7 linked regions of the Homo sapiens genome follow. The protein of the gene in region 3 purifies or fractionates together with the protein of the main gene of each other region. This does not show direct contact. Each region holds a gene or a part of one and is shown on either strand. Other genes may lie near its edges. The genes, in order: RPRD1B, DENND10, RNF168, DHX15, NUB1, MKI67 and POC1A.

The links.
Region 1: the proteins of RNF168 (region 3) and RPRD1B purify together in Homo sapiens (affinity purification with mass spectrometry; one large-scale study listed by BioGRID and IntAct). This does not show direct contact.
Region 2: the proteins of RNF168 (region 3) and DENND10 purify together in Homo sapiens (affinity purification with mass spectrometry; one large-scale study listed by BioGRID and IntAct). This does not show direct contact.
Region 4: the proteins of RNF168 (region 3) and DHX15 purify together in Homo sapiens (affinity purification with mass spectrometry, with the first as the bait; one study listed by BioGRID). This does not show direct contact.
Region 5: the proteins of RNF168 (region 3) and NUB1 purify together in Homo sapiens (affinity purification with mass spectrometry; one large-scale study listed by BioGRID and IntAct). This does not show direct contact.
Region 6: the proteins of RNF168 (region 3) and MKI67 purify together in Homo sapiens (affinity purification with mass spectrometry, with the first as the bait; one study listed by BioGRID). This does not show direct contact.
Region 7: the proteins of RNF168 (region 3) and POC1A fractionate together in Homo sapiens (co-fractionation; one large-scale study listed by BioGRID). This does not show direct contact.

What each region holds. Positions count from the first base shown.
Region 1 is NC_000020.11:38,036,746-38,040,245, reverse strand, and holds part of RPRD1B (regulation of nuclear pre-mRNA domain-containing protein 1B), read right to left. Parts: intron 2,788-3,500; exon of another isoform or gene 2,139-2,787; intron 1-2,138. UniProt on the Homo sapiens protein: Interacts with phosphorylated C-terminal heptapeptide repeat domain (CTD) of the largest RNA polymerase II subunit POLR2A, and participates in dephosphorylation of the CTD by RPAP2. Transcriptional regulator which enhances expression of CCND1.
Region 2 is NC_000010.11:119,114,113-119,117,612, reverse strand, and holds part of DENND10 (DENN domain-containing protein 10), read right to left. Parts: intron 95-3,500; coding exon 1-94. UniProt on the Homo sapiens protein: Guanine nucleotide exchange factor (GEF) regulating homeostasis of late endocytic pathway, including endosomal positioning, maturation and secretion, possibly through activating Rab proteins such as RAB27A and RAB27B.
Region 3 is NC_000003.12:196,490,269-196,493,768, forward strand, and holds part of RNF168 (E3 ubiquitin-protein ligase RNF168), read right to left. Parts: intron 1-3,500. UniProt on the Homo sapiens protein: E3 ubiquitin-protein ligase required for accumulation of repair proteins to sites of DNA damage. Acts with UBE2N/UBC13 to amplify the RNF8-dependent histone ubiquitination.
Region 4 is NC_000004.12:24,557,055-24,560,554, reverse strand, and holds part of DHX15 (ATP-dependent RNA helicase DHX15), read left to right. Parts: intron 1-3,500.
Region 5 is NC_000007.14:151,372,812-151,375,880, forward strand, and holds part of NUB1 (NEDD8 ultimate buster 1), read left to right. Parts: exon of another isoform or gene 1-1,285; coding exon 1,286-1,432; exon of another isoform or gene 1,433-3,036; coding exon 3,037-3,069. UniProt on the Homo sapiens protein: Specific down-regulator of the NEDD8 conjugation system. Recruits NEDD8, UBD, and their conjugates to the proteasome for degradation. Isoform 1 promotes the degradation of NEDD8 more efficiently than isoform 2.
Region 6 is NC_000010.11:128,109,424-128,112,923, reverse strand, and holds part of MKI67 (proliferation marker protein Ki-67), read left to right. Parts: intron 1-478; coding exon 479-791; intron 792-878; coding exon 879-997; intron 998-1,107; coding exon 1,108-1,279; intron 1,280-2,390; coding exon 2,391-2,546; exon of another isoform or gene 2,547-2,977; coding exon of another isoform or gene 2,978-3,071; intron 3,072-3,500. UniProt on the Homo sapiens protein: Protein that associates with the surface of mitotic chromosomes and acts both as a chromosome repellent during early mitosis and chromosome attractant during late mitosis.
Region 7 is NC_000003.12:52,098,924-52,102,423, reverse strand, and holds part of POC1A (POC1 centriolar protein homolog A), read left to right. Parts: intron 1-3,500.

The sequences.
Region 1 (3,500 bases), on a different chromosome or scaffold from region 3:
AAAAGAAAAAGAATGGGCCATCTTCATTGCTGTGTTGTTTAAACCAGGGTAATTAATTGATAGTAAAAATTAAGATAATCCAAAGAGAATTCCTAAAGGATAAGCAGTCAGTGTTAATGTTGAAACTAGGGCTTTTATTTATTCTACTGCAAAAATGAGCAACTTCTAACTCACTTTTAATTATCAAATATTTCAGAATGAAAGACTGAGTTGGCCGGACGCAGTGGCTCATGCCTGTAATCTCAGCACTCTGGGAGGACGAGGTGGGTGGATCATTTGAGGTCAGGAGTTTGAGACCAGCCTGGCCAACATGGTGAAACCCTACCTCTACTAAAGATACAAAAATTAGCCGGGTGTGATGGTGGGCACCTGTAGTCCCAGCTACTCAGGAGGCTGAGGCAGGAGAATCGCTTGAACCCAGGAGGTGGAGGTTGCAGTGAGCCGAGATTGCACTACTGTACTCCAGCTTGGGCAATAGAGCAAGACTCTGTCTCAAAAAAAAAAAAAAAAGACTGAGTTAGGTTTCAATTTTAAAATGGTTTCGCCGAGCGTGGTGGCTCATGCCTGTCATCCCAGCACTTTTGGAGGCCGAGATGGACGGATCACCTGAGGTCGGGAGTTTGAGACCAGCCTGACCAACGTGGAGAAACCCCGTCTCTACTAAAAATACAAAATTTGCCTGGCGTGGTGGCACATGCCTGTAATCCCAGTTACTCAGGAGGCTGAGGTGGGAGAATCGCTTGAATCCGGGAGGTAGAGGTTGTGGTGAGCCTAGATCATGCTGTTGCACTCCAGCCTGGGCAACAAGAGCAAAACTCCGTCTCAAAAAAAAAAAAAAGGTTTCTTGTAATTTTGCTCCTAAACTGAGAATTTCTCTGATACTCCAATAACCATAATCAATAATATAGAAGAATCTCTAGGTGCACCAATAGATATTAGCTCAAATACAAGTATACATTAACACTACACTCTTATTGAAAATTTACACACGTGTGAAATCTAGATATGCAAAATTAGGGCTTTCACAAAAACCATAATTCTCTCTTATTTATATGAAATGTGGTTATTCCCTATTACTCTATATGGTATCATATATTAAACCATAAAAACCTCGTGCAATATGTCTGAGTTACAGTTGCTTTGGGGAACATTACTGAATTCCCTGGCTTCTATGCACATAATTTCTCAACTATAAAGTTACATCCCTACAATTTTTGGTTCCAATTTTCTTTTAAAAGAAATAAATAAGAACATAATTAGATGTTTCAAAACACAAAGTTTTCTCCAATGCTAAAGTACCTGAAAAACACAAGCTCTTTATCAACCTTAACACACCTGAGTAACTCTATTTCTCTCTGAAACCAGTTGTTTCTTTTGAAATGTACAAAGCATTGATATGTCTGACATAGCAGGCATAAGATCTGACATTTTAAAATGTAGCTACAGGAGGCTGGGCACAGTGGCTCACGCCTGTAATCCCAGCACTCCGGGAGGCCAAGGCAGGTGGATCACCTGAGGTCACGAGATCAAGGCCATCCTGGCTAACATGGTGAAACCTTGTCTCTACTAAAAATACAAAAAATTAGCCAGGCGTGGTGGCGGGCGCCTGTAGTCCCAGCTACTCAGGAGGCTGAGGCAGGACAATGGGGTGAGCCCAGGAGGCGGAGCTTGCAGTGAGCCGAGATCACACCACTGCACTCCAGTCTGGGTGACAGAGCAAGACTCTGTCTCAAAAAAAAAAAAAAAAAAAAAAAACAAAACAAAAAAAATCAGCCGGGCGTGGTGCCAGGCGCCTGTAAACCCAGCTACTTGGGAGGCTGAGGCAGGCGAATCACTTGAACCTGGGAGGCGGAGGTTGCAGTGAGCCGAGATCGCGCCAACTGCACTCCCACCTGGGTGACAGAGTAAGAGACTCCGTCTCAAAAAAAAAAAAAAAAATGTAGCTACAGGAGAGTAACCCAAGTTAAAAACATGATTTTAATAGCACATTACAGTTTAAACTGATGAAACTGATGTCTTAAATGCTCATAAAATTAAATATGGATACCCTGAATTGTCTTAACCTTCTGGTAATAACCTAGTTTAGATGGCCAACTGATAAGAATACTAGGAACCTGGAGCTTTCTTCAACTTTCTAATTATTATTCAAAAGCAGAACAAAAGTGTCAGTAGTTACAATATCTACTGTTGCTACAAAGGTATGATTATGGCAAAACGTGCTTTTTTGTTAAAGCAAACCTTGCTCTGCAAAGTTGATGTAAGTGAAACTACTACACCTATAATCCCATGCAAGTTAGCAGATTCGAAAGCAAAACAGAACTTCAACAAAGCAAATTTCATTAAGTGAAGCTTTAAAATTCCATACACTTTATGTTGAAAAAAAAAAAACCTAGAATCCATATTGTAAAATGTCAGTGTGGACATTCAAGACCTGATATATACTTCTCAGTAGACAAACAAGGTATCTAAGGGGCTTGAGACCCAAGGTTTTCACTGTTTACAATGCCAATTAATTTTCATCACCCCAGAACTTAACAATGGGGATTTATTTAGGATAAACTGTATCCCTCCATATTCAACATCCTCAACAGTCAACATAAGCACCATGTGTGTCAAGGTGATATGACAAAACCCTAGAGCTCTTGAGCACACACAGTCACAATACACACAACATGCACACCCCTCCATCCCAATCCTGGGGGACAACTCACTTGTTCAGATGTCCTTCCTATACGACAGAAATAGGTCCTTTCACTCACTACCCATGTCCATTCCAAACTGGTCAAACTAGTTGTTGAGTAAAATTTAAACAACTGGTTAATCAAAACTTTTCACTTGTTTGGCTGGTTTTGACATCTACAGAAAGTCTTAAAGTAATTCTGCAATAAAAGCCCATTACCTACATTCAGGCCAAGATACAAAACACCATTAAAAACATTCATTTAGGAGCACTTTACACCAAAACTAGTCCATAAAGAAGGGGAGACGTTCTACTTAGAACAGAGCTCAAATGGGATAAATTAAAAATTATTCCTAGAAAATGGAAAGACAACACATCAGGAATAGAAGTATTTAAGCAAGAAAAAAAGTTAATTTTTATAAATCTCATATATTTTGAAGGCAACTCAGAGACAGTCTGTGAGCATCTCAGCTACGGAAAATGACTTCACCCTAGGTAGAACCTACAGGGCTAATCAATCTGAACATTAGGGCACAGAATCCTTTTCTTTCAGTGTGGGGGCATTTTCAGTTCATGAAATAAGCCTGGATATTCGGAAGCTAGGTATTGATGCTTGGAAGAGCATCTTTTTTTAACTCTGCACTGTCCAGTAAGTTAGCCACTAGCCACGTGTGGCTATTGGAACACCTGAATTGCAGCTGGTAAAAACTGGAAACTAAATTTTCAATTCTATCTACTTAAAACTTTAGTTCCTTAGTCACACATTTTAAGTGCTCCATAGCCACATATACCAAGCGGCTACCTGTTGGATGGCACAGAT
Region 2 (3,500 bases), on a different chromosome or scaffold from region 3:
AGAGCCGTTTTCTTCACTCTGGCATATCCCCTTTGTGAGAACTGCAATATAACTCTCCATCATTTTAACTGGGCTCCCATGTTTCAGGTACATTCTGTAAGAAAGGACAACAAAGCAACTGTGATTTCATTTGGCACAAATCATGTACAGATGTGCACCCAGGCTGGTATGGGTGCCTTCTCAAGAATCCGAGGCCACCTTGCTACTGCCCTTCTGAATGCTTCACTCTTCTGTTTTTTTTGAGACAGAGTCTCACTCTGTCGCCCGGGCTGGAGTGCAACGGTGCAATCTTGGCTCACTGAAACCTCCACCTCCTGGGTTCAAGTGTTTTTCCTGCCTCAGCCTCCCGAGTACCTGGGATTACAGGTGTGCACCACCACACCCTGCTAAGTTTTGTAATTTTAGTAGAGTCGGGGTCTCACCATGTTGGCCAGGCTGGTCTCAAACTCCTGACCTCAGGTAATCCGCCCACCTCAGCCTCCTAAAGTGCTGGGATTACAGCTGCACTTACTGCACTTACTGCTGAGTTACTGCGCTTGGCCTGAATGCTTGAATCTTTTCATGTAGAAAGTAGTATTACTTTCAAGTAGCATCATTTCTCTCTAAATTAAAAATATATTTCAAAGAAAAAGCAGCCGGGCGCAGTGGCTCATGCCTGTAATCCTAGCACTTTGGGAGGGCAAAGCAGGCGAATCACCTGAGGTCAGAAGTTGGAGACCAGCCTGGCCAACATGGCAAAACCTCACCTCTACTAAAAATACCAAAAAAAAAAAAAAATTAGCCAGGTGTGGCAGTACATGCCTGTAATCCCAGCTACTCAGGAGGCTGAGGCAGGATTGTCGCTTGAACCAGGGAGGCAGAGGTTACAATGAGCCGAGATTGCACCACTGCATTCCAGCCTGGTCAACAGAGCAAGATTCTGTCTCAAAAAAAAAAAAAAAAAAAAAGAAAGAAAGAAAGAAAAGAAAAAGCTTGAGAGACCTTCAACAATTCTTTGGACTCAGCCATCTCCTTACATCTGGGAGCCCCTTGTTGTACTAAGGCAGGAGAATGAAGTACGAACTTCCTGAGGTCCCAGGATTCTCAAGAATGTTGTGCACTTATCCTGTGTCTTACATTCACAACTGGGGTTCTCAGTCATACAACTCTGTTTTATCACTGAGATTTCCTTTGACGAGAAAGGAGTTTTACGCACTGTTCACAGAGAAACCAGTAATTAGTTGTAGAACCCATACTTATTATTAAATGAGTTCCCAGAGGTAGCTATATTTAGATAATTAAGAAATCAAAACTCCTTTAGGTTTCTGGTGATAAATGCACATTAGACATTCATCGTCAAGTTAAAGCTTCTAGAAAATGCTGACAGGAAACTGGCTGCATTTATAGCTCACATGTGGAATCCGTCTCTTCCCCTTGAAATCTCTTCCTGTGAGCAACTAAAATTAAATTTTGCTTGAGAAACATGACTGGGTCTATTTGGGCCTTTCAGGAGCTGGTGGGATAGAAAATCGGGAAGAAAATAAAACATATTTAAGACAGATCACTTGAGGGCCGGGCACAGTGACTCATGCCTGTAATCACGGCACTTTGGGAGGCCAAGGTGGGCGGATCACTTGAGGCCAGGAGTTAGAGACCAGCCCGGGCAACACGGTGAAACGCTGTCTCTACTAAAAATATAAAAATTAGCTGGGCCTGGTGGCTCACACCTGTAATCCCAGCTACTTGGGAGGCTGAGGCAGAAGAATTGCTTGAACCCAGGAAGAGGAGGTTGCAGTGAGTCAAGATCACACCACTGCACTCCAGCCTGGGCAACAGAGCGAGATTCCGTCTCAAAAAAAAAAAAAAAAAGATCACTTGAAAATTATATTTATCATAGACTAAATGAAAAAAGCAAGTGTTTTAACTGCTTGCCAACTTTTGTCAATCATCAGTGTTTTTTTAAAAATTACCAATTCCAGCACTTTGGGAGGCCGAGGCGGGCGGATCACGAGGTCAGGAGATCGAGACCATCCCGGCTAAAACGGTGAAACCCCGTCTCTACTAAAAATACAAAAAAAATTAGCCGGGCGTAGTGGCGGGCGCCTGTCGTCCCAGCTACTTGGGAGGCTGAGGCAGGAGAATGGCGTGAACCCGGGAGGCGGAGCTTGCAGTGAGCCGAGATCCCGCCACTGCACTCCAGCCTGGGCGACAGAGCGAGACTCCGTCTCAAAAAAAAAAAAAAAAAAAAAAATTACCAATTCAATTCACAACTTGACGGAAAAAAAGTAGAGAACAATGAATGTGGTGAGCTTTCACACATGTAAAATACATTCAAACCCAGGAACTCACACACAGGCTCACACAGGGAGAAAAACTTCTCTGATAGGATATAAAGAAGGAGGTCACGGGAGTTGTGTGGGGTGGGGATCAGGAGGTAGAACTGGAGTCTGGGAACAGGAGGAGGCGGCAGCTCAGTTTTCACTGCATATTCTCCTGTGTTTCTAAATGTGCTTTATTACTACCAACAACAAAAAACCAAAATGCCATTAGCTTTCTAAAATAGAGGCCAAGCACTGTGGCTCATGCTTATAATCTCTACACTCTAGGAGGCCGAGGCAAGAGGCTCACTTTAGGCCAGGAGTTCCAGACAAGCCTGGTGAACATGGTGAAACCCCGTCTCTACTAAAAATATAAAAATTAGCCAGGTGTGGTGGTGTGCACCTGTAATTCCCACTACTTGGGAGGCTGCAGCACAAGAATCACTTAAACCCATGAGTTGGAGGTGGTAGTGAGCCGAGGTGGCGCCACTGCATTCCAGCCTGGGTGACAGAGTGAAACTCTATCTCAAAAAAAAAAAAATTATAAAATAGAAACAATACACAGTAATAGAGAAGAGAAACATAAGGTTGGTAGGATAAGATGACTTCCTACATGACAACCCTGGGCCAGGAGAGATAAAACAGAGGGGGAAATCCCCCCAAAACCACTCCACAGGAAAAGCCCACAGTGCGACCCCAAGCACCTTGTTCAGATAGACATCCATAGGCTGCCACACATCGAGGCCTGTACAGCTGACTGCAAGTGTGCATGAAACCCCGGTTCTCTAGCAGGGCCACTAGCAGCAAGCGACTAGAGGCTGAAGAGGACCACAGCAGTGAACCTGCAGCCACATAGGGAATGAGGTTCCCTCCTGCGGGCTTCTGCTGCCACTGTGAGCAGCAAGCTGTGTGTGGAAGGCACGCCTGCCTGCTCCTCACCAGAAATGGAGGGAGGCAACTCCATGTTAAACTGTCATGAAGAAAAGAAGTCTTTGCCTATGAGTGTGTGCATGTACACACAGACCTGTGTGTGTGTGTGTGTGTGTGTGTGCAAATACTTGGATGTGCATACATGCAAGAGTGAGCATAGTGCTGCATGAAGGGGCAGGAAGCAGAGGAGGCGGCTGGCAGTAGCTCCGAGTCCTCACTTCTCTTGCACTGTGACGGGAGAAGAAATCCAGGATACTACAATGCCACGCACTG
Region 3 (3,500 bases):
TCTGATGAGAATTTTATTCTATAAAACAAGACACTGTTTTATAAAGTGTAAAAAGGGAACATCCAAAAAAGAGAACGCATCTGTCTGTTTCAAGGGGCAGCTGCTACTCAACTCCAGCTGACTACGACTACCAGGAAACTCAGGCCTGTCCGTGCCATATTTTTTGCTTTCTCAAGAAAATCCAGAGGCGGCAGGGGTGGATGGTGAGAGATGACTTCATGGGTACAATGTACATTATTTGGGTAGCAGATACCCTAAAGAGCCCTGACTTCGCCACTGTGCAATCTATACATGTAACAAAATTACCCTTGCACCCCATAAATTTATCCAAGTAAAAAGAAAAAAAAAAAGAAAATCCAGCAATCAAGATGTTAATATGAAATCTTCCAACTTAAATAGTGGCATTGGATGGGTCACAAAAAACATGCACACAGGATTCCTATGGCCTGCAGGCCAGCAGTTTGAAAAATCTGCAACAGAGAGACTAAAAAACAGTGATGTAACTCCAAAACAATTAGGGATGCAGTATGCTGAATTCTCATTTATTTTAGTCACTAAGGAGGATCTATTCAAGACAATACAATGGTATACACAGGAGAGACATATATAAGGCTCCTTAAAAAGTAGAAGGATAATCAGCTGGCTTAAACTGAGACCTAGATCAGCAAGTCTTAAAGTAGAATCTACGAAACCCTGGAGGTATCTGAGACTTTTTTTCAGGGAAACTGCAGAGTCAAACTATTTTCATTTAAAAAATTAAAGTAAGCTGGGAGCGGTGGCTCACGCCTGTAATCCCAGCACTTTGGGAGGCTGAGGCAGGCGGATCATGAGGTCAGGAGTTCGAGACCAGCCTGGCCAATATGGTGAAACCCCGTCTATACTAAGAATACAAAAATTAGCCAGGCGTGGTGGCACGCACCTGTAGTCTCAGCTACTCGGGAGGCTGAGGCAGTAGAATAGCTTGAACCCGGGAGGCGGAGGCTGCAGTGAGCCGACATTGCACCACTACACTCCAGCCTGGACGACAGAGGGAGATTCCGTCTCAAAACAAACAAACAAAGAAACAAACAAAAAACCCAAATAAAACAACTGACAGTAGGCCGGGCACAGTGGCTCATGCCTGTAATCACAGCATTTTGGGAGGCCGAGGCAGGTGGATCACTTGAGGTCAAGAGTTTGAGACCAGCCTGACCAACACGGTGAAACCCGTCTCTACCAAAAAATACAAAAAGCCGGGAGTGGTGGCAGGCACCTGTAATTCCAACTACTCGAGAGGCTGACACAGAAGAATTGCTTGAACCCGGGAGGCGGAGCTTGCAGTGAGCCGAGATCACGCCACTGCACTCCAGCCTGGGCGACAGAGGGAGGCTCCGTCTCACAAACAAACAAAAACACATGTTCAACATTACTAGTCATTAGGGAAGTGCAAATCCTGAGTACGGAGATACCGCTTCAGAGGACAGCCAACACTTGGTTTTTTTTTTATAATAGTCATCCATTAAGATATATACACACACATAATGGAGTATGCGGCCAAAAAAGGAAATGGAATGGACACGTGCTAGAACACGATGGACCTTCAAGACACTACGCTGCGTGAAACAGCCAGTCACCAAAGGACAGACACTGTGTGGGGTTCCACTCGTACGAGACACCTAGAGCAATTAAACCCGTAGAGGCAGAAAGAATGGAGGTCGCCAGCAGCCAGGGGAGGGGTGAATGGGGAATTAATTATTGTTTAATGGGCAGTTTCAAGCGTGGAAGATGAGAAAGTTCAGAGATGAATGGTGGTGACGGCTGCACAAAAACATGAATGTACTTCATGTCACGCAACTGTCCATTTAAAAATGGTTAACATGGCGGATTTTATGTTATGTATCTTTTACAATAAAACTGGAAAAAAAGTAAATCACTTTACACATTAGATACAATAAAATAGTAGCTAAGAGGCTGGGCACAGTGGCTCATGCCTGTAATCCCAGCACTTTGGAAGGCTGAGGCAGGAGGACCACTTGAGCTCAGGCTATCAAGACCAGCCTGGGCAACATAGCAAGACCCCATCTTTGTTCAAAAAAATTTTTTTTAAGTAGCTAATTTAGGAAAACAATAATAAGACAGATGTATTATACTAGAAAGCAAAACATATCATTAAGCAGAATTAAACTAAGCATGTGTGGTACTGACACAGCTACTGATAAAGAGATAGTTAAAAAATAAAAAGCCCAGGCAAGGTGCCATGGCTCATGCCTGTAATCCCGGCACTTTGGGAGGTGGAGGCAGGCGGATCACTTGAGGTCAGGAGTTCAAAACCAGCCTGGCCAACAAGGCAAATAACCCTATGTCTACTAAAAATACAAAAATTAGCCACGTGTGGTGGTGCACGCCTGTAATCCCAGCTACTCAAGAGGCTGAGACAGGAGAATCGCTTGAACCCGAGAGGCAGAGGTTGCAGTGAGCCAAGATCGCACCATTGCACTCCAGCCTGGGTGACAGAGAGAGACTCCATCTCAAATAAATAAATAAATAAATAAATAAAATAAATAAATAGCCCCAAATTGCTCTGGAAAATAAGCATATGATTAGTGAAATAGTACGTATATCAATGTGGCTGTATTACTACCAAGTAGTGTGGCTATTAAGTGGCAATCAAGGGCAGGGGGAGTTAAGATGCCTACCTCATACAATACTCGAATTCAAGGTGGATTAAAAAATGGAAAAAAACAAAACTATAAACGACTAAGAAGAACATATGAGATAAATTCCAAAACAATTAAAACTTCCATGTGATGAAAGACATCACAAAGTTAAAAACAAACTAGAAGTTATTTGCAAATACATAAATCACCAGAGAATTAGTGTCCAGAATATAACTAGAACTTCCACAGATCAATTAAAAACCACAACAGGCAAAGGAAAGGCACGTGCGATTTACAGAAGATGCCCAACTACAGCAAGCAGAGAGCTGAACTTTTGTTAAACCGTGGAATGACAGATTTTTAAAGTTTACTTATTTCTACATAAACTGAATCTAAATTAAGATCAGTGAGTTATTCAACTGCAGACACAAGTTAAAATTGTCTTCATTTGCCTTTTTCTTTTGTTTTTGGAAACAAGATCTCACTCTTGCCCAGGCTGGAGTTCAGTGGCGGGATCATAGCTCACTGCAGCCTCCAACCCCTTGGCTGAAGCGATTCTCCTGCCCTAGCCTCCTGAAGCACTGGGATAACAGGTGTGAGCCACTGCATCCAGTCCATTTGCTATTTCTTTTTCTTCTTTGACGGAGTTTCGCTCTTGTTGCCCAGGCTGGAGTACAATGGCGCAATCTCAGGTAACTGCAGCCTCCACCTCCCGGGTTCAAGCAATTCTCCTGCCTCAGCCTCCTGAGTAGCTGGGATTACAGGCATGTCCCACCACGCCCAGCTAATTTTTTGTAATTTTAGTAGAGACGGGGGTTTTACCATGTTGGCCAGGCTGGTCTTGAACTCCTGACCTCAGGTGAT
Region 4 (3,500 bases), on a different chromosome or scaffold from region 3:
TTTTGCTCAGTTTGTCATACATTTCTTTGCTTTATGACACTTCATGCTACATAGAGACTTGAATTTTGTACACGTATTGAATTAACCACTTTTATGATGTCCAGGTTTTGCATCATACCCTGCCCAGTGTTGGTTTAAATAATTTAATCCATGTATTTTACTATTTTGTTTTTGTTTTAAACATTTAACCAAGCTGGAATTTTACTGGGGAGGGATCATAAGCTTTGAGGTAGGGATTTCTGGTTTTCATTTTATAAAAATGATTTTTTGCCTTTCTTAGGCTTAGTTTGTAATTTTTTGGAATGTTTCATAAAATATATATACATATATATAAATACAAAAATATAAATAAGTAATATATTTGCAGGATGTAATGTTTTACCATGGTTTGTTCAAATCAGAATTAGTGATGTGTTAGGTGTCGTCATCTTGCTGAGATCATAGTTGGCAGTTGGCTTGTAGTTATACTACGCCATCTACATGTGCCTGTTGCAAAAAAATACTTAAGCTAGGTTGATACTGTTCAGTACATGGGGTTTTTGGTATATTTTATTAAGCAGTCACAGTTGAAAAGCTGAACTGTTACTTACTCCAAGGATGTTTTTGCTACTTTAGACATCTTTAGGTAATCTGCTTCTTGTTTAATTTGATTAATTTAGACTAGTGTTTCTTAAACTTTAGCAATCATCAGAATCACTTGAAAACTTGTTAGAGCAGATTGCTATGCCTCACCTTCAAAATTTCTGATTAAGTAGATCTGAGATGAGACTCAAGTTTTGTAGTTCTTACTAGTTCCAAGGTGATGCTAATAAATTTTTAAGAGCATCTCTGCCCTAAAACAGTTGGAAAACACTGTAGATAGTAAGGCACCCAGTAAAGTGTGGAGTTTGGCTATCCTGTGGCACTTTTATTAATTCATCATTGAAACTTCAAACTTAAAATTTTACTATTGTGACTCATTCCTTAGCCTGGATAAATATTTCATTACTACTAAGAAAGTTAGTAAAACTTGACTCTTACATAAAGGAAAATGGACTGTAGTTTTTATCTCCAGTGCCTGATTCTGCCTTTCCTGAGTTCTGTGTCAAGTTAGTTTTTTGTTGTTAAGCAAAGGGTTTCATACATTTAACAGTATAGCAAATCGTCAAGTACTGTTTCTTTTTTTTTTTTTTTTTTTTTAGTGGCTTAAAATTGACAAATTCATTCTCTCACAATTCTGAAGGTCAGAAGTTCAAAAACAGTATGTTGGCAGGTTAGTTCCAACTGGAGGCTCTAAGTGGCAATAGTCTTTCATGATTCTCTCCTAGCTTTTGGTGGTGGCTAACAGTCCTTAGCATTCCTTGGCTTGTAGCTTTGTAACCACAGTCTCTGCCTTCATCTTCACGTGGCTTTCCTTTTGTGTTCAAATCTCCCTCTCTTTACATTTTGTAAGGATACTGGTCATTGGATTTAGGGCCCACTCTTAAATTCAGGGCGATCTTGTCTGAAATTTATAACTTAATTACTTCTGCAAAGACCCTATTTCTGAGTAATGTCACGTTGATAGGTACCAGAGGTTAGGACCTGGGCATATCTTTCGAATAGCTTTTTGCTATGAAATTTGTACGTACAATGGGTTCCTTTATCTGGGACTTTGTGAAGAGTGTGTTAATGTAGGAGAGACTTAGGACTGGGAATCAGTACAGTGATACCTAGTCTTAGTAACTGGTTTTGAGAGTCTGGAAAAGTTGACTACGGTTTTTTTCGTTTTCTTCACTGGAAAAGAAGTAAATTTGACTATATCCTTGAGACCTTTGAAATTTTGAAATTTCATTTTTCTTGAAATTATTCATTGTACAAACAGCAGTATCCCATATTAACTGGTGATGCAAGAAGTAATTAAGTGCAGCACCTCATGGAATGGGATCACTGGGTGATGATCAGTATTGAGGAACCATTGGGAATTGTCTGGATGATAGAAGTTTTGGCCATTTAACTAAGTACTTGCAATATGCATAGTTAATAAAGCACAATAAAATATTTCCATTAATCTAATTTATAATATTTATAGTCTGCCATCTGTAACATTTCTTCCCTTAGAAAAATAAAAAGGAATGTCTGTTGGTTAGCTCTGCTCCATATTGTGATTGATTAAAGCTTGAGGAATGTGAGGAGAAAAAAGATCAAAATAAAGAAGGTGACTTTTAAAACTAGTTTTAAGAAGTTTTCAACTTAAAGTCATATTTTATCATTTCTGTGACTTTTTTCTCAAGTTTTTATTGTCTGAAGTTACAATGTGTCTCACAATCTACTGAGGTCTTGTAGTTGGTGGCAGTTTGGTTATTATTGCCTGTGAATGCTTGAACTCGATCTAGCTGTACATATTTTCACCTCAAATAATGTGAATTGTTGGGTCTGTATATACTGAGAGTATTTGCTAATTTAAATGCCTTCAGAAATATTAAATATTACACTATGATTCCATGTTGAAATGAGCACTGAGTATCAAGAGGCTGGGAAATGGAGCAATAGGGTGTAAATATGCTAGTATTTGAGCAAATGTTGGAAGAGTAACCAATCCTTTTTTTTTTTTTTTGCCTTGCAAATCAACAGACCGCTCTATTGAAGCTAAGAGAGGTAACTCACAAATAGAGGAAGCTGTATGTTATGTTCTGCTACTGAGATCATGTACAAGAGTATTGCCTCTCTCGTGTCTGTGATATATCGGAAGACAGGAAAAATTACCAAACGTCCTCAGATCAAAGAAATTTCAAAGCAGCTAAGGGCTATAGTGTTGCTGATTCTTGCACTATGCTTTACTGTCTTTAAGGCACTGAGTCATAATTTAATTGGCAGTGTTTTTTCTTTCCTGGTCTTACATAAAATAACCTTATAGCTAATGCTGTTTGTCCCTCCCAGGAATGTGGTAGTTTATTTTTAAAAATATGACCAAGGACAAGAAGCATAAAGCATATAAATGAGTTAAGATGGATTTGTTTGCCAATAGTTTATGAAATTTAGAATTAAGTTTAGGTGAAATAAAGAGAATTCACTTCTTTTTGTTGTACACTATCAATTTGCTGAACTTAATGCTCCAGCAGATGGCATGAGCTAAAAATATCCAGTTGGTCCATGAAAGATTAGGTTAGACTAATCATAAAAAGAGCCAAAATGGTGAATTCATAAATGATGGCTTCAGATTTTTTAATACCACTTTTAAATCCGTAAATAAAATAATGGGTTTTTATCTAACTGGATGAGCTGTGACTTAAGCATCTAAAGGCATCCTGTGTTTTGTCCAGGTGCCAAAAGGAAGATAGTTGTTTTTCATAGTGACATCAGTAACCAGTGTGGAATGGACAGGAGATAGCTGACCCCTGCAAAGTTATACAATCTTGACCCTTGATCTCATTGCCTTCATTCTTACGTGGCGCCTGTCTTGTGATAACTGGAGTCCATATTAGCAGCCTTCACTTGAGCCATCCCTAACTAAGCCTGGTTTCCCTTTTTGGTTCATTGAT
Region 5 (3,069 bases), on a different chromosome or scaffold from region 3:
CCACTGAGAGGTAGAGCACGTAATGGGGGCATGAGACAGGCCTGGTGCAGCTGAAGGGGAAGCAAAGGGAGCTGGCGCTGTGGGCACTCCAGGGCCACACCAGGAGGTTCTCCTGTGATAGAGACAGGCCATGAGTCTACAGATGTCTTCATCCCTGGAGATGTTTCCAGCAGCCACTCTGTTCTGCCTGCTCCTACTGTGGGGCCTGTGGAGTCTGGTTCCACAATGATGATGCTTTTGTTTTCCTAAGAGATGAGGCCGCTTTCCTGCTGTGGGGAAAATGCAGGGAGGCGCCTGTTGCCTGGGCTGGGCAGGAGGCAGGATCAGGTCTCTGGAAGGAAGGAGTCTGTTTTCTCCCCCGTCCTCGCTGCTGCTGATGGTGGGGCTGGTCTCCCTGGGAGAATGTAGCAAGTCACTTAACTTTGTTGAAAGCTTTCTGTCTCCTTGTTGGGAAAATAATGAGGTTGGATTAAATTCCTGGTTTTCAAACTTGCTTTGTTGTTGTTGTTTTTAAGCAGCAAAATCCCCTTTTTAAATGACATTTTTATGGGGATACTAGTTTACAAAATAAATTGGGAACTCTCCTGATTGGCCCTGGGTGGGAGAGGTGAAGAGACTAGAACCCTCTGCAGCCGTCCTGCGCTCCTGCAGCAATAGCAGGCAACTCTGAGAAACAGGGTTGAGAACCAAGAGGTTAGATGACCTTTGTCTCTGGGCACTCTGTGGGTTCCGAATGGAATGACAGGCCTCAGAAGGCCCTGGAGTCCTTGCTCCCCAGGCTGTGGGGGGCGGGTCACCAGCTTTGGCATTGCCCAGGAGCCCCTGATTCCACATCACATTTTAACTTGAATCCCTGGGCGATTCATCGAAGGCTGGAAGGCCTTCCCACCGCGTGCAGAAGCTCTCCTACCCGGTTCCTACCTGGTTCCTAGAAGAGAATCCATGCACCTCACACCCGCGACCTCTGCAGTGGGAGTGCTGGGTTGGCGAGCAGCCCATCCTGATGCCGGATGGTGGATGGCGGGGCTGGCGAGGCACCTCCTTCCTGCCCCACGGGCATCTCACTTCCACTGCCTGCCTCAGAAGCAGCACTTCCACCACCCCTCTGCCTCTGTGGCACCTCTGCCATTTGGCTGGGTGAGGAGAGGTAGAAAGAGGGCCCCCTGTGCTTTGCTTTGGTTTTTTGGCTTTGCCTGGAAATGCGGAGAATCCTGCAGAGCGCAGACTGAGAGGCTGTGAAATCTCAGTCCCTAACTTGGGATGGGACTTTGCTGTTTTCCTAAAGGAACTGGCCCAAATAAGGAAGGAGGAAAAAGAGAAGAAAAGACGCCGCCTCGAGAACATCAGGTTTCTGAAAGGGATGGGCTACTCCACGCACGCGGCCCAGCAGGTACTCCACGCAGCCAGCGGGAACTTGGATGAGGCCCTGAAGGTAGCAGCTCCCTCGGGGCCTCTGGCCTTGTCCCTGAGCAGTGGGTCCTGCCCAGAGCTCCCTCCATGGCTCTCCAGCATCCTCCCGGGCTCACTCCTATGGGCTGCCCCGTCATCCGGATCTGAAGGGCAGGTTTCTCCTGGGCTCCAGCCCAGACACAGGCTGCGTGAGGCCACGTGAGGCCCCATGCTCAGTGCTTGGCCCAGGCCTGGCTCCAAAACGTGGTGCCTGTCCACACCAGCACAGTCCACAGGCCAGGACTTTGTGTAGGGTTTCTGTGTGCAGCAGAGTTTAGTGAAACAGGCAGTTTCCACGGCAGAAAAAAGAGAATGGGAATTCAACTTGTAGTATAATTGTTTGGCATTAAAATTTTAAATGTAAGTATCTAGTTTTATTTATTTAGTCCATCGTACATGTTGGCAAAGGGAGAGCTTTTCAAAGAACCCCTCAGGAGTGACAGCAGGTTGGGATCCAGACAGCAGTGACTTTACCTGGGCCACTTCCTTCCCTGTGTTGGAGAAGCATATCGAATCCTCAGTAGGGCAGGTGCTGCGCTGCGTCTCAGCAGCTTGGCATGGAACCACCCTCTGCCCTCTCGGCCCCGCAGGTCAGTGAGAGACAAACTCAGAGCACACGTGGTGAGGGGTCCCGAGGGGGTGCACAGGAGGCAGGGGGCTGGCTGTGTGGAGGCAGCAGTCCAGACAGATGCTGGGGCAGCGCGGCGGGCAGGAAGCAGAGTGGTAGGAGCTGGCTTAGGTTGTGCACGTGCTGGGGGCGGGGCTGGGGGGACAGAGATGGGGTTGGAGGGGGTGGGGTGCAGGGCAGGTGTCCTCGTTTGCCCTGCTGAGGCGGGTGTGGGTGCAGCAGGCACGGGGAGTCCACCCTGCCTTTGCCTCTTATCCCTGCCCTGTTCCCCGGAAGGCTCCACAAGTCAGTACTTTTGTAACTATGTACATGTATATTTAACATATACGTTAAATTTTAAATTTTTATTTGAATATCATCTAGTTCGTTTTTTTGTGTGTTGGAGAAATATTAAGAGGTGGGAAATTCTGAATATTCGAAGGGACTGATGGGTCTCAAAATAGATGTGAATTATACGAGTGGCACAAAAATACTTCCAGTCAAAATGGAAGTACTGAGTGTTGGAAAGGAAAGTCTCCACAGGGTCTTTGAAGATTAAGTATTGTGTGATGAAGAAATCAAGGGTCAAAATAACCCTACTACCTGCCTGACATTTTAAGTCTAGAGGGCATGACGCTTTCAAAGATCAATCAGGCAGCCCTGAGCTGCTTGAGACCTTTCTGTCTGTAGCTCTGACAAAACCTGTTTTCTTGGATGCTGCTTCCACCTGCTCTCCATCCCTTCCTGCTCTAACAGAAGGGATCTTTTCCCTGACTAGTCTTGCTCCTCCTTCAAACCCCAGCTGTCCTGGTCTCTGGCTGGAAGCCTTCTGTGAACACCAGCCTGAGTGGGAGCCCCTTTCTCTGCCTCATAGCAGCAGAGGACGGCGGGGTCTGCCTAGCACATGGCAGGGTGCAGCGCCTGTCTGAATGTGTGAAGAGTTCTTAGTGATGGGTAAAGGGTGTTCCTGTGTGTTTTAGATTCTGCTCAGCAATCCTCAGATGTGGTGGTTA
Region 6 (3,500 bases), on a different chromosome or scaffold from region 3:
CACACCTCTGGGAAGTCATGGCCCTATAGCTCATAACCTTTGTAATAGGGCCTGGGCGGTCTTTCTTTCCTTCTCTTCCCAGCAGGAGTGGAAAGTGATGTCTGGCTCCCTTTCCATTTTACACTGGCTCCCAGGGGCAAGCAGTCCTCCCTCCATGTGGACTGCCGGGGGCTGGGTGCTCACAGCTGGTATTTACTGGGACTGAGATCAGACCCTGCTTGTCTTTCACTGATCAGGATGTTCCTTCCACCTTTTTACCTGAAATGACCTCACTTCAGACTTGGCTTGCTTCTCTTTCCTTTTCCTTAAATGACTGAGACAGTCTCACCTCTACCATAGTCTTCAAAGACAGTGGCTTAAGCATTTGATGCTTCAAGATTTAAACAGCTGAAATTCTTAACTGAATAGGTTTTTATCAGTCATTCCAGAGATGTTAGATCCTTGTTAAGGCTTCTTGTAAACAATTTTGTCTTGTCAGGAACAGCCTCAACCATCAGGAAAACAAGAGTCAGGTTCAGAAATCCATGTGGAAGTGAAGGCACAAAGCTTGGTTATAAGCCCTCCAGCTCCTAGTCCTAGGAAAACTCCAGTTGCCAGTGATCAACGCCGTAGGTCCTGCAAAACAGCCCCTGCTTCCAGCAGCAAATCTCAGACAGAGGTTCCTAAGAGAGGAGGGAGAAAGAGTGGCAACCTGCCTTCAAAGAGAGTGTCTATCAGCCGAAGTCAACATGATATTTTACAGATGATATGTTCCAAAAGAAGAAGTGGTGCTTCGGAAGCAAATCTGATTGGTTAGTCTGACATTAGAATACATATATTAAGGTGAATTTTTTCATGAATGCTAATTTTTGAAAAGTTTCGTCTTTTCCCTTTGACAGTTGCAAAATCATGGGCAGATGTAGTAAAACTTGGTGCAAAACAAACACAAACTAAAGTCATAAAACATGGTCCTCAAAGGTCAATGAACAAAAGGCAAAGAAGACCTGCTACTCCAAAGGTAGGGGCCTCACTGAATGGCTGCTTTACACATACCGGTGTCATCGAAGCTTGCATTCAGTGTGGATTTATGCTTTAATGTCCTGTTTACCTCCTTCCTGTTTTCTACAGAAGCCTGTGGGCGAAGTTCACAGTCAATTTAGTACAGGCCACGCAAACTCTCCTTGTACCATAATAATAGGGAAAGCTCATACTGAAAAAGTACATGTGCCTGCTCGACCCTACAGAGTGCTCAACAACTTCATTTCCAACCAAAAAATGGACTTTAAGGAAGATCTTTCAGGTAAAAACGTAGTCTTAGATCTTATAAATCTTTTGACTCTACTGTTTTTTACTGTGTTAATGTTTGTTTTGCTAACTTTGTTTATCTGCTGTGAAAGAGATTATAAAATAAACGACTCAATCACCCTTCTGGGGTCTTAGTGTTCAGGGAAGATAAAGCTGTTTTGGCTTGCAAAGACAAGTCTCTGCTAATTTTTGGGATCACATGTCCTGCATGAAATAGGTGTGGAAATGTCAAATGCATGTCTTTACCCTGGAGAGCAGCGTATACATAGAAAGCTGGAAGGTGCTTTACAGTGAAGAGAGTTAACTTGTTAATCTGCAGGTACAATAATAGTTTATCCCAGGTGTGGGCCAGTTGTTGTTGAGCAACATTTTGCTTCTTCAGGATTGACTTTCTAGGTAGCTTAACTTTCTTGAAAGAAAGCCCTATGAGAAGATTCCCATAAACGATTGTTGAAGAAATATTTCCATTCAATTCCCACTCTCAGTAAATTGTGGCCTGACTTGTGTAATTTAAAGTGGGGATGGCCGGCGCAGTGGCTCACGCCTGTAATCCCAACACTTTGGGAGGCTGAGGCCTCCTATCATTCCAAACAGAATGATAATGATATTAGATTTTCAAAAATATATATTATTACTTGACAGTACTAAAAATGGGCAGCTCTTTGTCATTTTCTAAAATGTGGGTACGTGTTATTTGTACTTAAAATCTAGAACTGAGCACCCAAGACTTTGAGAAGCATGAAGGCATTTGGCCTCTAGATCCTAGCAGGGAGGCCTATGGGTCTCAGGAGCCCGTCACCAGCCTCCGTGCTCCAGAGCTCACGTGTGGGGTCTTGTTAGGAGGACCCAGAGGTCAGCTAACTTCATTTGTTTCCTTTCCAAGAAAAGCAAAGCGAAGAGCATAACATATCTTCTCTGTGCTCTCTTTTTTACAAAATGAGTACATTATTAATGGAATCACTCTTTTTATGAGGCCTATGTACCAGGATTTCAAGGGAGGAATCTACTGTTATTTCCCACCATTTGCACGTTACATGTGAGGGCTGGGATGGTTGTCTGCATGTTAGCAATATGTCAATCACTTTTCAAATATTTTCATTTAACAGGAATAGCTGAAATGTTCAAGACCCCAGTGAAGGAGCAACCGCAGTTGACAAGCACATGTCACATCGCTATTTCAAATTCAGAGAATTTGCTTGGAAAACAGTTTCAAGGAACTGATTCAGGAGAAGAACCTCTGCTCCCCACCTCAGAGAGTTTTGGTTGGTTTCCTTGTTTCCTAACACTGTGATGTTTTGGGATAGGAACATACAGTATTATTTTTTTACAAGCAGTATGATATTACTTCTCTAAAACAAATGTTCCTGGCACAAAATACCATTTCCGTCTTCTCTGTTCTAATTGAAAGGGAGATTTCAATCAGCAGTTGAACTAACATTGGCATTCATTGACTTATATAGAAAGAAAGACTCCGTTAATGTGTGTAAATGACCTGTGTACACTTTTGGCTTCTTTATTGTAAGTAACCAGGGTGACATAGCAAAAAAATACAATGGTGTCTCACCATATTTACATATAAATTACTCATATTCAAAATTACTGCCAATTACAAAACAGAAAGATAACAGTTTGTATACTGTGCAATTATTCCTGCTAACCTTTTAGGTGGGAGCAGGCCCGGGGTAAGTGTGAGATGGGAGATGAGAATCTGTCTAATCTCTCATTTGGCACTGGTCACTGTATTCCTGTCACAGAGGGAACAGCTTGCTACCCTGAAGATGTTTGCGGTAGGTAAATATTTCCTGTGTAATATGGACCCTAACCACATAAGGATAATCCATGTTATTTTATTGGCGATTTAAGGCAAGAAACAGCTGTTTGTTTCTAATGTTTGAAGGAAAAAATGCCTATATTTACGTCAATGACACAGGGCATGGCAACCTTTGGAGGAACCTTCTGAAGCAGTATTTTTACCTTCTATGATCATTTCAGCATCTAACTTTGCTTAATGATGACCCCACTATAGCACCAAATAACATTATTCTTAATTGTGCATGGCTCTTATAAGACAGATTTATAGACACATAAGTAGCCTCATGTCGTTCAGTGAATACGAAGCTAAATATTTAGTTTTTTACCATATTTTATGAGGCTGTAATACTCGATTGACATGAGACACTAATAGAATGTTTTTATTGTGTATGTTTTTATTTCAG
Region 7 (3,500 bases), about 140 Mb from region 3:
ATAAGCAAAGGAATTATGGAGCCACCAGAAGCTGAAAGAGGGAAGGCAGCATTCTCCCTTAGTGCCTCCAGAGGAAATGTGGCCCTGCCTTGATTCAGACTTCCAGAACTGTGAGAGAATTAATTTAGATTGTTTTACGCCATCAAATGTGACAATTTGTTACAGCAGCCCTAGGAAACTATTAATAATATATACTTCATGTTGTTTTGGTGCTATTGAAAAGATAATGGCCAAGAATTTTCAAAAAATAATGAAAGGCATCAAACCATAGTTCCAAGAAGCTCAGAGAAACAGCAAACAAGCTGGAGAAAAACAAAACAAAACAAAATCCTAGATGAGTTATATTCAAACTTCTGAAAACCAAGGATTAAGAAAGAAATCTTGAAGGTAGCCAGAGAAAAAAAGACATATATATGTGGATCAAATGTAAGAATTATGAAGAATTCTCGTGAAACTATACAAACTGAAAGAGTAACATCTTTAAAGTTTGAAAGAAAAACTGCCAACCCAAAGTTCTGTACTTAGCAAAAATATTTTAGCAATGATGGGGAAATAAGACCTTTTTTTCCCCTCCAGAAAAACCAAAGCTGACAATTTTTTACCAGCAAATTTGTATTATAAGAAATATCTAATTTCTCTCTCTTCTCCTTCTAGGATTCCAATTGTCCATGTGTTAGAGACAGTATTGTCTTGTAGCTTATGGAAGCTCTGTTCTGTTTTATCCCTCTGTGTTTCAGTTTGAGGAATTGATCTATCTTTAAGATCACTAATTTATTTTCCCATTGAGCCCATTATAGCCATACTTCTCTGTTACTGGGTTTCTTATTTCTGTTGTTTCCATTTGACTCTTTCTTATAATTTCTGCCTTTCTGCTGAAATTCTCCATTTGATCATGTGTGTTATTCAGTAGAGCCTTTACCATATTAATCATAGTTATTTTAAATTTTGTATCTCATAGTTTCAACATCTAGGTCATCTGAGTCTGCTTCTACTGACTGCTTTGTCTCTTGACAGTGGGGTTTTTTTTTCTCCCTGCCTTTTTGTGTCTCATAATGTTTTATTAAATGCCAGGCATCATGCTTAGGACAGTAAAGACTGAGGTAAATAGTCTTATCAGGAGTTGAGCTTAGTTTAGTGTTACCTAACGTACCTAGGATGAGGTCTGGTTGATGGAGGATTTTCTCAGTCATTTTCCTCACTCTCACCTTTCAGCCAGCCCTGTGGGCATGCCCCTCAGAGGGGCATGCTTTTTTCCATGTTCTTGGCCCTCCTCCCTAGATAGGCTGCTGTTGCTTATTGCTTGGTGCTTGATATTTTTTTTTTTTTTTTTTTTGCTGAGGGTTGGGGTGGGCCCTGTTGTCTTGACCCAGCTTCAGTCTTAAGCAGACTCTGTCTCCCTGGGTCTCAAAAGTGAGACATTCTTAGCGGTCCTGCTCCTTCCTCATTCAAAGGAGACCTTGATAATCTCAGCTCAGGATAGTTTCCTGCCTCTCCCTCAAGGGAAGAGGTGTTTTTATATTTGCTTTTCCCTAGTAGTTTCAGGATGCTCTTCTACAGGGGAGAGGTCCTGGCAGGGCTTCATACCTTTCCTTACTCACTCTCCTCTCCTAGGCCTGCACCTCCAAGAACGGTTTTCTTCCATCTACTGTTCTGCCCCCATTTTTTTTTGTCATGAAAGCCCAGTGGAGGTCTGTGGAGGAGAACCTGTGCATGGGTGCAAGCTCTACTTGTGTCTGTGGCACCTGGGGGTTCTGCACTCTTACCCTAGTCTGCGCTTGGTCTCCAGCAGTTTGTTAAAACTGTAACTTACCCACTCGTATGGTATTTGGCGTCTCTTCTCCTCATGCTTTGCCATAGGTGACCCACAGCTGATGCTCACTTTCTATTTTCCTTGGAAGTGTCTGTCTTTCCTTAGATTTCAGGCTACTGGTTGCTCTGTGACTTCAGCTCTCTGATTTAAGAGAAGTTATGATTCTTTTAGATTGTCAGTCTTTTTCTTGTTAGGAAGGAATTAACACTTTCCCCAGCTTTATATATCCTAGGCAGCAGCTCCTTATCCATACTTGTATCTTGATGGAAGAGGGAGATCACGGTCAATTCAGAGACCTCTCAAGAAGTCAACTCCAGATGGGTTGATTTCTTGTCACAAGGAAGATCTACAAGCTGTTTCTTTTGTTTTTAATGAAATGTTATGGTTTGGTTCCTCATGTGTCTGGGTAGCTGAGTATCAGCCACAGACATTTAGGCAATTCCTACTGTGTGTGAAGTGATGAGCTCCTGGTGGTGTATGAAAAGCAGGCAGCAGAGGAAACAGGAACTGAGGTGGGCAACACATTAACCAACTGTGAGAGGCCAGAGTCCCACCCCAGGGTGGCATGAGAGGAGACACCTGCAGACCCCAAGTGATATTTCCCAAAGTTAGAGCCATCTCTTGAGAGTCACCTTTTTTTGTTTTGGTATTAAGATGTTTATATTTGGCAAAAGTGAAATGTTGTTGAATTGGTGTAGGCCTATACGAGTATATGTGTGGATTAATCTTTGTTGTTATTTTAGTGAGCATTACTTTTTCTTTTGAGACGGAGTCTTGCTCTGTTGCCCAGGCTGGAGTGCAGTGGTGTGATCTCAGCTCATTGCAACCTCCACCTCCTGGGTTCAAGTGATTCTCCTGCCTCAGCCTCCCGAGTAGCTGGGATTACAGGTGCCTACCACCATGCCTGGCTGATTTTTGTATTTTTAGTAGAGATAGGGTTTCACCATATTGGCCAGGCTTGTCTTGAACTCCTGTCCTCAAGTGATCCACCTGCCTTGGCCTCCCAAAGTGGTTGGGTTACAGGTGTAAGTCACCGTGTCTGGCCTCTTTGTGTTATTTTATTCATGTTATACTTAACTGAGAACCACCAGGCAAAACCCCTAGGACTCTTTGATGTTGAACAGACAAAATGCTGATGTGACTTTTGCATTTAAATGCTGCTTGGGTTATTCTGCCACTGTCATTACTCATGGCTCTGGTACGACTGTCTCTTCCCACTCTTGTGTGTCATTTTCTTATCTCTGCTTTCTTGCTTATTTGCCCAGCTCTCAGGGAAATGCCACAGCTCCAGAGTGCTGGCATGCAGGTGAGTGGCTACAGAGCTGTGAGGGGTGGGGCTGCTGGCCCTTTGCTGCAGTGCAGACATTGGGGAGGATTCATTACACAGGAATTTTACCTCGGTGGGCCCTGCTCTTTGAGGTGTTGAGTGTTTGTGGAGGGCCTGCTCTGAGTTCAGCTCTGTGCTGGGCAATCATTCCAGGGCAGCTGGGTTGGGGAAGTGACGCAAAAAGCATTAGACCTAGGATTCAGAGGCCTCCATGGGGACGTTGGAGAGGAACTGTGCACATGGAAGCCCAGCTGCAGTCAATGTCACCTGCCAGAGGCTGTCTCATGTCCGGGAAGAGCCTGCACTTTGGGTTCAGATCCCAATTCTGTTATTTGCTGGGTAACTTAGAACAAGTTACTTAAC